3 separate regions of the Homo sapiens genome follow, and all the other regions are linked to region 1. The links come from fine-mapping of genetic effects on gene expression. A gene starts in region 1. Each other region holds a variant in brackets. All regions are shown on one strand. Distances are from middle to middle. Region 1 holds the start of FRRS1L (ferric chelate reductase 1 like). Region 2 overlaps FRRS1L (ferric chelate reductase 1 like). Region 3 overlaps EPB41L4B (erythrocyte membrane protein band 4.1 like 4B).

What was found. PIP is the estimated chance that this variant, and not a neighbour inherited with it, causes the effect. A credible set is the group of variants that fine-mapping cannot tell apart.
Region 2: its variant is the best candidate, but not a certain one, in a credible set for the expression of FRRS1L in prefrontal cortex (ROSMAP, PIP 0.71).
Region 3: its variant is the best candidate, but not a certain one, in a credible set for the expression of FRRS1L in tibial nerve (GTEx, PIP 0.87).

What each region holds. Positions count from the first base shown.
Region 1 is chr9:109,165,538-109,169,778 of GRCh38, reverse strand. FRRS1L (ferric chelate reductase 1 like) reads left to right here and starts at 2,530. Exons shown (of 5, transcript NM_014334.4): 1 at 2,530-2,878. The coding sequence starts at 2,641.
Region 2 is chr9:109,128,325-109,132,565 of GRCh38, reverse strand. It overlaps FRRS1L (ferric chelate reductase 1 like), which reads left to right. Exons shown (of 5, transcript NM_014334.4): 5 at 1-2,273. Among named protein-coding and RNA genes, the nearest start is that of TMEM245, 10 kb to the right of the region's middle. The variant A/G (reference allele first, on the strand shown) is at 1,847.
Region 3 is chr9:109,196,011-109,200,251 of GRCh38, reverse strand. EPB41L4B (erythrocyte membrane protein band 4.1 like 4B) reads left to right here. Exons shown (of 26, transcript NM_019114.5): 20 at 1-16. It also overlaps the pseudogene RNU6-984P. Among named protein-coding and RNA genes, the nearest start is that of FRRS1L, 31 kb to the right of the region's middle. The variant C/A (reference allele first, on the strand shown) is at 2,496.

The sequences.
Region 1 (4,241 bases):
CATGTATCCCAGAACTTAAAGTAAATTAAAAAAAAAGTTGAACATGGAAAAAATAATTCATAAAAAAAGCTATGGGTTTTCTCCCTAGAAAAACCCATACATCACAACATTATTCCAGCACTTTCATAAGGTCCTCATATCACCCCTGAAGCCTATCTGTGGCCCCCTGTGAGTCTACATGAGTAGAGAGAGAATTGAAATCCACAGTTTACCTGCAAACTTCATTTTAGGCTGTAGTTGTAAACCGTCCCCAAAATACCCAAATACCCCCATAAAAACAATATAGAAAGCCCACGTGGTGGTGGTTTTTTTTGTTTTGTTTTGTTTTTTTGTTTGTTTTTTGTTTGTTTTTTGAGATGGAGTCTTGCTCTGTCGCCCAGGCTAGAGTGCAGTGGCCTGATCTCGACTCACTGCAAGCTCCGCCTCCCAGGTTCACGCCATTCTCCTGCCTTAGCTTCCCGAGTAGCTGGGACTTCAGGCGCCCGACACCATGCCCGGCTAATTTTTTGTATTTTCAGTAGAGACGGGATTTCACCGTGTTGGCCAGGATGGTGTCGATCTTCTGACCTTGTGATCCGCCCGCCTCGGCCTCCCAAAGTGCTGGAGTTACAGGCGTGAGCCACCGTGCCCGGCTGCCCACGTGTTTTTATATCAGATTAATTTACTCGGAGAAGAATGGCCTGGTTTTCATTTGCCTTCTATTTGGGCACCGTTATTGTTAATTTCAGTAACCAAAATGAAGGGAATAAAAAGGAAAGTAAGAGGTAAAAGCTTGTATTCCCAAACCAGAGAATCTACACTGAAATCAAAAGTCTAATGCTTTATTTTTTTGGCTAAACTTTGGTCCATTCTAAGTTGACCATACCTTCCCTGGTGAACAGAAAGAGAAGAAAAGAAAATAAAGAAATTTTAATTTTTAAGAAAGGTTTAAGGTTTTTGTTTTTGTTTTTGTTTTTTTTTTTTTTTTTGAAGGACTACACTTTAACAGATTTTCAATCTGTTGGATCAGCTTTTTTAGAATGTTATGCATTGCCACGCTATGCTTTTTGGGAAGAAGTCTCTTGAGTTTTTAAAGTAATCATAGTTCATCTTACCTTTTTCAAATAATCTGATCTATTTTTTGTGACAACTGCTATGTTGGGGGACCTAGTGAAGCCCAAGGTTTTCATGAATTACACCTCAATTCAGCCATCAGGATTAATATGTTTAAATTCCAGTTGGACAGCCCACTGTTAGCTGATACCTAATAGAAAATACCTGACTTCTAAGTCCCCCATCATGTCTCCCCTGTTTCAACAGCACTACCCTTATCTCTCAGCCAATCAGGCCATAAAGGGTTAAGATCACTAGTTTCCTTTTGAATATTAACATTTCACAATATTGTGTACATGTGTGCATGCCACTTACAGCACTGAACCCTATTGATCCTTACCTCTATGATCTTCCCTAATCTTCATTGCATCATGTCAATGACTAATCATGAGAGATCAGGCAGTCTGACTTCTAGGTCTGCATTTGGGACCTCTATGCTTTTCTGCCTCCATAATTATTTTGTTTATGCAATAAAATAAAATAATAAAATAGGAAAAGCAGGTTAAAATGCTGGCTCTGCAACACCAGCCTGAAAGGAATTGCGTCCGCCTCTCTGATGGAAAACAGCTTAGCAATTCGAATATATCACCCCAACAACCATCATCAAAAGAGAACCCTGGGACCTGCCATAAAGCAAATGCTTGGTGTGAATCAATGGATGGCTGAGTAAATAGCCAAAAGTGAACTGCAAGCAGCAGGAATGGATTTGAGAAAAATCAACAATTCAGCATGGCCCTCAGATACGGTGTGGGCCTTCCAAGGCCTGCGCGTGCTTGCTGCAGGGAAAGAGAGTAAACCAGAAGCCTAGTTTTGAAGGGGAACAGGTTACCTACTGGCACCAGCCTCTGTTGATTACACACCGCAAGAGCCTGGAGAGGAAGCAGGTGAATCCAGTTTTCTCTGTCTCTAAACACCTCAGTTTACCTAGCTCTATTGTGGGGGTCTTGCAATTTCAAGTTCCTTCTGTGATGATCCAAGAAATAATAGGTCTAGCAAGTGCTTTATGTAAACCAAAAAGTGCCGGCACAAGGTTGAGGAGGCAGCACTGACCAGGTGTGTCCAGGGTAAACTCTCTAGAGGAGCGTTTCATAAATTGAACGTGCATTGGGATCTCCTGGGAATTTTGATGAAATGAACATCCCGCTTCATGGGTCTGGAGTGGGGCCTCAGCGATGCTAACAAGCTTCCAGGTGATGCTGATGCTGCCGGTCCGCGGACCACACTCCGGAGTAGCAAGGGGCCAGAAGGGCCAAATCTGCCTGCGTGGAGGGAAGTCGGGGAGATGGGGAGAATGGAAAGAAGGACGGTAGAAGGGAAGCTGCTAGGAAGGAGAGATCGGTGCGGGGAGGAGGGGGGTTCCAAGAAGAAGGGGGAGGCTGCGGTGCTGGAGCGAGGATGCGCAGACCGAGGCAGGGAGGCGGGGGTGCGGGAGGCTCCGCGGCTGCGCGGGCGCGTGCTGGTGGCCTCGGCGGAGGCTCAGTCCCGGCCCGCGCCCGCGGCGCCCCCGCTGCGGCCCGAGCGGCCTGGCTGCGGGATCTGTGCGCACGGATGGCGCGGCCGCCCCGGCAGCACCCGGGGGTCTGGGCGTCGCTGCTCCTGCTGCTACTGACGGGGCCCGCCGCCTGCGCAGCCAGCCCCGCGGACGACGGTGCGGGCCCGGGGGGCCGGGGACCCCGGGGACGCGCGCGGGGGGACACGGGCGCCGACGAGGCGGTGCCGCGCCACGACTCCTCCTACGGCACCTTCGCGGGGGAGTTCTACGACCTGCGCTACCTGTCGGAGGAGGGTGAGGCTGCGGGAGGGCGAGGGGTTGCGGGAGGGGAGACCGGGGGTGGGGGACCGAGGATCGGGGGAACGAGGAGAGGGGGCGAGGGAGGGGGAGGGGGTCGGAAAAGATGTCCGTGGAGGCAGCTCTTGCAGAGGCGAGGCCAGGATGGGGAGCGCAGTGCCCAGGCCTCCGCCGGCCTGGAGGAAAGGCCCAAAGAGCTGTCAATGCCTGCCGCCCGCTTTACAGATGGGGAGAGTGAGGCTGGGAGAGGGAGGGGTCATCCAAGTTCTGCAAGGCTGTGGATAGGGGTGGGTGCTGAGTCTAAGCTCCCCCAGTTCTTAGATCTGGCTTCCACCTTTGCCGCCTGGGGTTGGGTTATAGGGGAGGAGGCCGCCATCTGGCCAGGGCAGCTAGGGGGAAGCAGAAAAACCCCAACCTAAAGAGAGAGGTTGCCTTATTTCCTCCCTGTCTGTATTGACTTAAATTTGCAGTGACCAGCGCCCACCTCGTAGCATTCTGTTCCTGCTCACTGACCCGTCAGAGCTGGGTCACATCAGCCTCCCCACTCCCATCCCTCCTCTTTTATGACGCCACATATGTTATGGTCCCCTAGTGCGAGCCACCATTGTTGTGGCCTGCTGGGCCCGCAGACTGGGAGTTTGTCAGCCAAGGGCCTCCCTGTAGAGCTGCTTCAACGAGCACAAAAGCCAAGCGGATGGTGGTCAGAAGGAATGGAAACTGGCCTCTTTAAGCAACTTTGGGAAGTAGTGACTTTCCTTTTCTTCTGCTAAGAGGGATATCCAACCATCAAGCTGGGGTTTGAAGTGTTGAGTCCCAGGAGCTCATATCTGTTAGTGGATGTGTCTGTTGTTAGGATTAAGTTCAGCTGTATACAACAAGCAAACATTAATAGCTTCAACAAGATAGAAGTTTCTCTCTTACAGAAAGAAAACTAGAAATAGGTAATCCAGAACTGGTCTGGAGGCTCCTTGGTCACCAGTGTCTCTGGATCCTGCCCTTCTGTTTCTTCACAATTCTTAGCATGTAACTTCATGGTTCAAAATAACTGCTTGAGCTACAGCCATTATGTTCACATTCTAGACAGTGGGAAAAATGAAGCAGGAAGAAGGTCACTGACTACTTTATAAAGGGATTACTCGGAAGTTTCATATAACAATTTTTATACTTCTTTGGCCACAACTTAATCATATGGTTGCACATAGGTACAAAGGAGGATGTAAAATAGAGCCTATTAGCTGAGACATAATATGCCCAGTTCAAAAATCAGAATTATTGTATTAAAGAAGATGGAGAGAATGGATTTGGGGAAATGTATTAAGTAGAGGCTTAACTGCTGAATTAGAGATTTTAACATATAGTG
Region 2 (4,241 bases), 37 kb after region 1:
TAGTTGTAAGAATATCAAAGTTAGTGAATAATTTGCTTTTAAAATAAATTATTGTTGATTTATTTTTATAAATAAATGGCACAGGGCATCTCATGCTCTTGCATTCTAATATATTTTCTGGAATTGATGCAAAAGTGGTGGCAGTAAAGTACAGAGCCGGCTAAGCAGCAGTTTTGTCTTAAGTAACTGTGGTGATCATGGACAACCATTGCGCTGAACTGCTCTTCATGGTAAGGATTTCAGTGTTTCAGAGTAATTCATTAACCTAGAGATGTTTTAAAAAGTTGTATCGGCCGGGCGCGGTGGCTCAAGCCTGTAATCCCAGCACTTCGGGAGGCCGAGGTGGGCGGATCACGAGATCAGGAGATCGAGACCATCCTGGCTGACACGGTGAAACCCCATCTCTACTAAAAATACAAAAAAAATTAGCTGGGCGTGGTGGCGGGAGCCTGTAGTCCCAGCTACTCAGGAGGCTGAGGCAAGAGAATGGCGTGAACCCGGGAGGTGGAGCTTTCAATGAGCCGAGATTGCCCCTCTGCACTCCAGCCTGGGTAACAGAGCAAGACTCCGTCTAAAAAATAAATAAATAAAATAAAATAAAATAAAATAAAAGTTGTATCAAAATCTGCTGCACCATGGGAGTGTTTTACACATGTGATGTGGCATCTACCTTATGTACCATAATGGAAAAATGTTTGAGAACCACTGCACTAGGCCAAAGGCTGGGATGTGTATACTTTGCTGCCGTGTATAATTGTATGTCCTTGTTCTCTAAACGGAATTGGTTATGTTTAGTGAACAGTTAGGTGGTTCTCCATGTGTTTATATACACAGACGATCCCCGAATTTGGATGGTTCAACTTAAGAGTTTTCAAACTTACGATGATATGAAAGTGATATACATTTGATACATTCCTACAACTTACAATGGGGTTATGTCCCATAATTGTTTTGACTTATGATATTTTCAACTTACAATTGATGGGTTTACTGAGACATAACCCTCTTGTAACTTGAGGAGCATGTGTATATTTGTACATACATGATGGTGTGTGTTTATACACAAAGGCCTGAATATACACACCATGAGCATTTGAAGGTCTTTGTCAAGGTTGTTTCTGTTTCTGATCTCTTGCCTACTTTAAAACCCAAGAGGTAGAACATTATGCATATTACAGGCAAAACTATGCTTGAGTTTATAGCAATGTAGTTTGTAGAAAGGATTCCTGGATGTTTTACTAAGCCTTTCCTCCTCCATTCAACATTATATGAATTGTTAAGAACATATAAAGTACCACTGTTGAATGTGACTTTTCTATACTGTTAGTTAAGAAACCAAGACTAGTGTTAGCTGAGTAACTGGCATGTTGATGCAACCTATACAGGTTTTGTATTTAATTAGGTTCCTTATTCAGTTATTCAAGTATCCAGTTATTTAGTTTCAAGGTAGATTTCTTTGTTTTTATATTTAATAAAAGACTTGCATATAAGTTCCTCTTCATGAAAATAGTGGCTAGGCTAGTGTGATTTTAAGTATGTCTGGCAACTCAAAATGTAATGGATTCATCAAGCTATTTGGGATTTTTAACATAAAACACACTGCTGCTTGATTAATGTGTTCAGTTTTCCCCTGGATATTTGCTATTAGGCTGATAGCCATTTGGTTGGATTCTTCTGGAGAGTAATTGATTCTCTAAGGTAATGGGGTGCTGCAGTGGGTGTAGCATTCACCCAGGTCACTAGAATCCTACCTGTTTCATCACATAGAAGGCCCTGGCCATGGGGAAGAGTGAATGCAGCTTCTCCGGATGCCTTATTTCCACAGACATGCTGATATGCTGGAACA[A/G]TCTGGCTCCAGGAGTATTAATATACTTTTTTGAGACTGTCTACAAAATACTATTTTGTAAAAACTATGCCTTTACATAGACATTGATAGGTTATATTTGTTTTATAACAATTGTGTACCTAATGTTTGTGATTAATTTTGAGATTTATGTATATTTATAAGCCTATCTTATGTAAATTTTTACTCTAAGATGTGTGGCACATTACTAATAAAGACGTGGATTTCTATTTATGTAAAGTAATTGTAGCAATATTCCTAGATGCTACCTAAATGATTGTTCTGTCCATTTGCCATCACAAATACTTTTATCTTTGGATGATTATGTTAGTCAGAATATATTAATTAGATTTAAACTTTAAAATAAGAATTACAACATAGTTTGAAATTCTTCCTGTTGATGTAATTAAAGTTAGTTTATAATTCCTTATTGCTTTGCTCTGGTGCATTTTTCTTTTCTGTTTCTGGTTTTAAATCTTTCATCAGTAAAGTCACTCTCATTTCTCCCTGAATCTATAGACCTTGGAGAAGACGATAGCCTGTCTTGTCTGACAAAGAGGAAAATCATTTTGCTGTCATCAGGTAAAAATTCCCGTAGAGAAACAATCTGTAAAATAATCTTACATTTATAGCTTTGGTTTAATACTTTATTAGGTAGTGAATGGAGGCCTATAATCCCATTTCAAGTGTATCAGTTGGTTAATTGCACATGGCTAGCTCTAAGAATTTCAATAATCAGCATTATTGGCAACTAAACCATATAATATTTTGAGAATAATTAGAGTTTAGTTGTAGAGCATAATGAATCACCAGGGAGGTCGTTGAGCTGCCAGTACTACAGGGGCTAGCTTGAGAAGATCAAGGAATGGCATGTTAAAAAAGAATCAGGCATTACCACATTCTGCATTCAAAGCTCTAATTTTCACCAAAAAAAAAAAATTCAAATATTTTGTCCTTTGTTTAGTATTCTGCTTGTTCCGTGTAGTATTTATTTTGCAGTATCCTGAGTGGACAGCCCAGCTATCAAATCTGATCCTGGCTAATGTTTGACTTGGAGATTTCTTAGGGCTCAGTCGCAGGTACAAGGATCAGATGATAAGCTATAAGAAGAGACAGAGGAACTGCAATGGACATGAGAGCCACCTGCGTCCAGGAGGTTAAGAAGCTTTAACCATTCATTCATTCATTCAATCAATCAATATTTATTTATTTATTTATTTATTTATTATTTTTTTAGGGTCTTTGTCACCCAGGCCAGAGCGCAGTGGCACGATCAGAGCTTACTGTAGCCTCAACCTCCTGGGCTCAAGCGATCCTCCCACCTCAGCCTCCCAAATTGCTGGGATTACAGGTGTAAGCCACTACACCCAGACAATAAATATTTATCGAAGACTCTTATGTGCTCGTCCTTGTGCTAGACATTACACAGAGAGGACTCTAGGAAGAACAGTTCTTGATTTCTGCCCCCACCCTGGGGCTCACCCTGGGGGCCTGTTTGGAGAGTCAAACACACACCATGACAGTACCTTGTGGTGAATTCAGTGGTAAGGAAAAGCTCAGGTCTGATGCTAAACCTGAGTGGAGGTCCTCACCCAGCCTGGGGCAACTAGGAAAGCAGGTGGTGATACTGAAGTGAACCTTAAGGAAGGGGTGCTGTGGACTGAACATTTGTTCCTCCCAAATTCATATGTTGAAACCCTAATCCCCAATGTGGTGGTATTTGGAGATGGAGCCTTTGGTAGGTAATTGGGCCGTGAGGGTAGAGCCCTCATGAATAGCATTAGTGTCCATATAAGAAGAGACAGGAGAGAATTTGCTTCTTTTCTCCACTCTCCACCATGTGAGTACACAATGAGAAACTGGCCATCTTTGAACCAGGAAGAGGGCCCTCACCAGAACCCAACAATGCTGGCGCCTGTTCTCAGGCTTCCCAGCCTCCAGAACCATGAGAAAGAAATTTTTGTTGCTGAAACCAGTCCGTCTGTGGTAATTTGTGGGAGAAGCCTAAATTGATTAAAACAAAGGGGTAGAAATATGTTAGGCAAAGGGTGTACAGGGGCATCACCAAGAAAGGGGAGAACAACCCAACAGCCTCAGACGAAAGACCAGCAGGATGTATTCTGGAACCATTGTCATCTGACAAGGCTTATCTTAGTTTTCTATTGCTCCTGAAAACAGTTTCCACAAACATAGTGGTTTAAAACTACAGAAATACATTTTCATACAGTTCTGGAGGCCAGAAATCTGAAGTGAATCTTACACAGCTAAATTTAAGGTATTGGTGGCGGGGCCCAGTGGCTCACACCTGTAATCCCAACACTTTGGGAGGCCGAGGTTGGTGGATCAGTTGAGGTCAGGAGTTCGAGACCAGCCTGGCCAACATGGCAAAACCCCATCT
Region 3 (4,241 bases), 30 kb before region 1:
CAAGACAGTATAGTTTGTGAGTTCTGTACTGCAACTTTTTCAATTAAAACAACTATGATGACTAATTGTTTAGATACAAATGCTTCTTAGCCCTTCTGACTAGTCCCAGGGAGCAGCCCCCAAATTCCATTTATTTCCAATTTAGGTAATAATGAGACTAGCCCTTTCTCCCTGAAAACCTTACATAGTTAGCATAAGGATTCATTATTGACTACTGTGTAATAAATTACTCCCAAACTTAGTGTCTTAGAACAATCCACCTTTATCACCTCACAGTTCCTGTGGAGTGGGGGTCGGGGCATGGCTTAGCTGGGTCTTCTGTATCCGGGGCTCTTACAAGGCTGCATTCAAGGTGTCAGGGCTGCGGTCTCATCTGCAGGCTTGTTTTTACGGTTGCTGACAGGGATCAGGTCCTCAAGGACTCTTGGACAGAGGATGCCCTCAGCCTGTAGTCACATAGGTCTCTCCAGCCTTCTCCATCAGAGAAAGCACATAAGAAGAGCCAGAGAGAGTGACAGCAAGGCAAAGGCACAGTCTTTTGTAACCTACGCACAGAACTGACATCCCATCACTTTTTTTCTTTTTGAGACAAAGTCTTGCTCTGTCGCTCAGGCTGGAGTGCAGTGGTGTGATCTTGGCTCACTGCAATCCGCCTCCCAGGTTCAAGCAATTCCCCTGCCTCAGCCTCCCAAGTAGTTGGGATTACAGGTATAAGCCAATAAGCCTGGCTGATTTTTGTATTTTTGGTAGAGACGGGGTTTCACCATGTTGGCCAGGCTGGTCTAGAACTCCTGACCTCAAGTAATCTGCCTGCCTCGACCTCCCAAAGTGCTGGGACTGCAGGTGTGAGCCACCGCACCTGGCCCCCATCACTTTTGCCATATTCTGTTCATGAGAAGCAAATCCCTATGTCCAGCCCACACTCAAGGGGAGAGATTACACAGGGGCATGAATACTAGGACGGGGATCATTGCAACCCACATCAGAAGCTGCTTTCCACGGCATATCCATGAAAAGGCAGCCCCGTCTGTCAACAGAACCAAAGCTAATCACTGAGCTTTGACACCTGTAGGAGGAGCCATTTCCCAAAATGTCCCAGAATCACCAGGGCACATGTGCACCTGACTGTTCTAGGCATCGTTAGGGAATAGTAAAGTGACTTTGACAATTCCCATCCAAAGACTCACACTTTACTGGAGGGAAAGACAAGAGTCACAAATAATTATAATCCAAAGCAGAAAGATAATTGCTGTAATCAGGGTGGTGAGTACTAGTAATAGTTGTAGTACTGATCACAATGGTATTTCCCTTTTTTTTTTTTTTTTTGAGACAGAGCCTTGCTCTGTCACTCTGTCACTCTGTCACCCAGGCTGGAGTGCAGTGGCACAATCTTAGCTCACTGCAATCTCCACCTCCCGGATTCAAGCAATTCTCCTGTCTCAGCCTCCCAAGTAGTTGGGATTACAGGTGCCCGCCACCACACCCAGCTAATTTTTTTGTATTTTTAGTAGAGACAGGGTTTCACCATGTTGGCCAGGCTGGTTTCGAACTCCTGACCTCAAGTGATCCACCCCACCTTGGCCTCCCAAAGTGCTAGGATTACAGGCATGAGCCACCGTGCCCGGCTTGTAGTTCCCATTTCTTGACCTTAGCTATGGCATGGGTACTGTGCCCAGATGTGTCATTGGTCAGAGAGTAACTGCAGGGGGATCTCTGGACGAATGAAAAGGATGGGGGCTTTGGAGTTGGAAAGGCTTCTGTCAGGCCCCTGGCTAGTTTACAGCTGTAAGCTCTTGGAAAAGTGACTGTTTGATCCTCTCTTCCTTCCTCTGTAAAATGGATGAGATAATACCTGCCTCTGAGGAGTTTTGTGGGGCTTAACATGAGAGAATGTGGGTAAAGCCCCAATACCCTGGCCATAGGATGAGGTCCCCTTTCTTTCTTCTCTAGGACCTGGAAGCTTCTGAGGAAAGATGGAGTTTAGGGGGTACCCAGAGTGCAAAATGTAGGACAGGACACGGGATTCTGGATGCAATTCTCTAACAGCCATCTCAGGTCTGCCATTTGTACCTGTGAAAAGGAAAAGAGGCATGTATGGGGGATATTAAGGGAGATATATCCCACCTCATATCCTTCATAGAAACTTCTGGTCAGCTGCATTTCCTAGGAAAGCCAAAACGAGTAAAGTTCAAATAATTAACAGTCCTAATGATCTCTGGGGGACAATTAAGCCATGACAGTTTGCTTCCCTCGAGGATAAGACTGGCAGAACTTGCCATTCCTTTTACATTTTGAAACTCAAAATGTTACTATCACTCATTTGAGAGATGTAATCATGTTTGAAACAATGACTGGCTGATATATAACCTGGAAGGAAAGGAAATTTCACTAACTCACCAAACTCACTCTTTTTTTTGTTTTTTTTTTTTTTTGATACAGAGTCTCACTCTGTCGCCCAGGCTGGAGTGCAGTGGCACAATCTCGGCTCACTGCAA[C/A]CTTCGCCTCCTGGGTTCAAGCGATTCTCCGGCCTCAGCCTCCCAAGTAGCTGGGACTACAGGCACATGACACCATGCCCGGCTAATCAAACTGGCTCTTTTAAGGACACTCTTTTTCAAACCTTGAACTTTACATGTGTATTTCTTAAGCTGCCCCAAAGTATTCTGCTTTGAAAATCAAACAATAGCAGCATTTTCCCCATTAGTAGAAAATAGCAACATCCATGGATGAGATTTTCCCAGTGTTATTGTCCCATAAAGAGTTCTCGAATCCTTGACGCTGGCTACCGCTCATTTGCCCATCTTTTTATTATTATTATTATTTTATTTTTTTGAGGTGGAGTCTCACTCTGTCACCCAGGCTGGAGTGCAATGGCTCAGTCTTAGCTCACTGCAGCCTCCGCCCCCTAGGTTCAAGTGATTCTCCTGCCTCAGCCTGCCGAGTAGCTGGGATTACAGGCGTGTGCCACCACGCCCAGCTAATTTTTGTGTTTTTAGTAGAGACAGGGTTTCCCCATGTTGGCCAGGTTGGTCTCGAACTCCTGACCTCAGGTGATCCGCCCGCTTCAGCCTCCCAAAGTGCTGGGATTACAGGCATGAGCCACCACACCTGGCCTTTGCCCATCTCTTTAACTCTTTGATATTGATAAAGTTGGCACGTGATCAAGGAATATAAATGGGAAAACTCAGATCTCTGATTTTCTGGAAAATATTTTTTACATCATCATTTTTGAGATACAGATTTGTGTGCACACATCGCCCTTTTGGCTGTTGTAATATTTCTAGTTCCTAGGCTGGAATAAGGTGTAGTCAGATTTTAGGTTGCTCCACCAAAAGCATTGTAACATTCAGGTGCTGTGAACAAGTCTTCAAACCACTGCTTTTAAAGATACAGACAAAAATCTCAGCCACATTATTTCCTGGAAATATGACAAGGAGGGAAAATGTGGCTGCTACATGCAGTGAGAATGGAGAAGTAGAGGGTCTCTACAGAGAGTTTAAGGCAGGCGAAAAGGTCTTTTTTTTTTTTTTTTTTTTCGGAGACAAGGCCTCACTCTGTTGCCCAAGCTGGAGTGCAGTGGTCGATCACAGCCCACTGCAGCCTCAGGTGATTCAGCTCAGGTGATCCTCCCACCTCAGCCTTCTGAGAAGCTGAGACTACAGGTGTGTGCCACCACATCTGGCTAATTTTTGTATTTTTTGTAGAGACAAGACCAGACCATGTTGCCCAGGCTGGTCTCGGACTCCTGTGCTCAAGCAATCGCCTGCCTTGGCCCCCCAGAGTGCCGGGATTACAGGCATTAGCCTCTGTGCCCAGCCAAAAGTGTCATTTTTTATTGATACCAGCTAGTATGTTTAGAAAATCATGAGCTATTTTATTTTTTTCCAGAAATATAACTTCACTGTTTATTTAAACATAGTGTAAAAGTCTAAAAAAAATTCAATAGTGCTCACTTTGGCATCACATATACTAAAATTGGACTCATACAGAGAAGATTAGCATGGTCCCCCTGCGCAAGGTGGACATGCAAATTTGTGAAGCGTTTCATATTTTAAATTTTTAATTAAATAATAAAATATTTATAAGTTAATTAAAATATTTAAAGAAAAGAAAAAAAAGTAAATAGGCAAGACAGAAGAGAAAAGTAGCCAATTTCCCAGAATCAAAAATAACCAGGGTTCATAGTTGACGACTGTTACATTAGACAAGTTTCTATGCTTATATATTGTTAAAATAGAAACAAC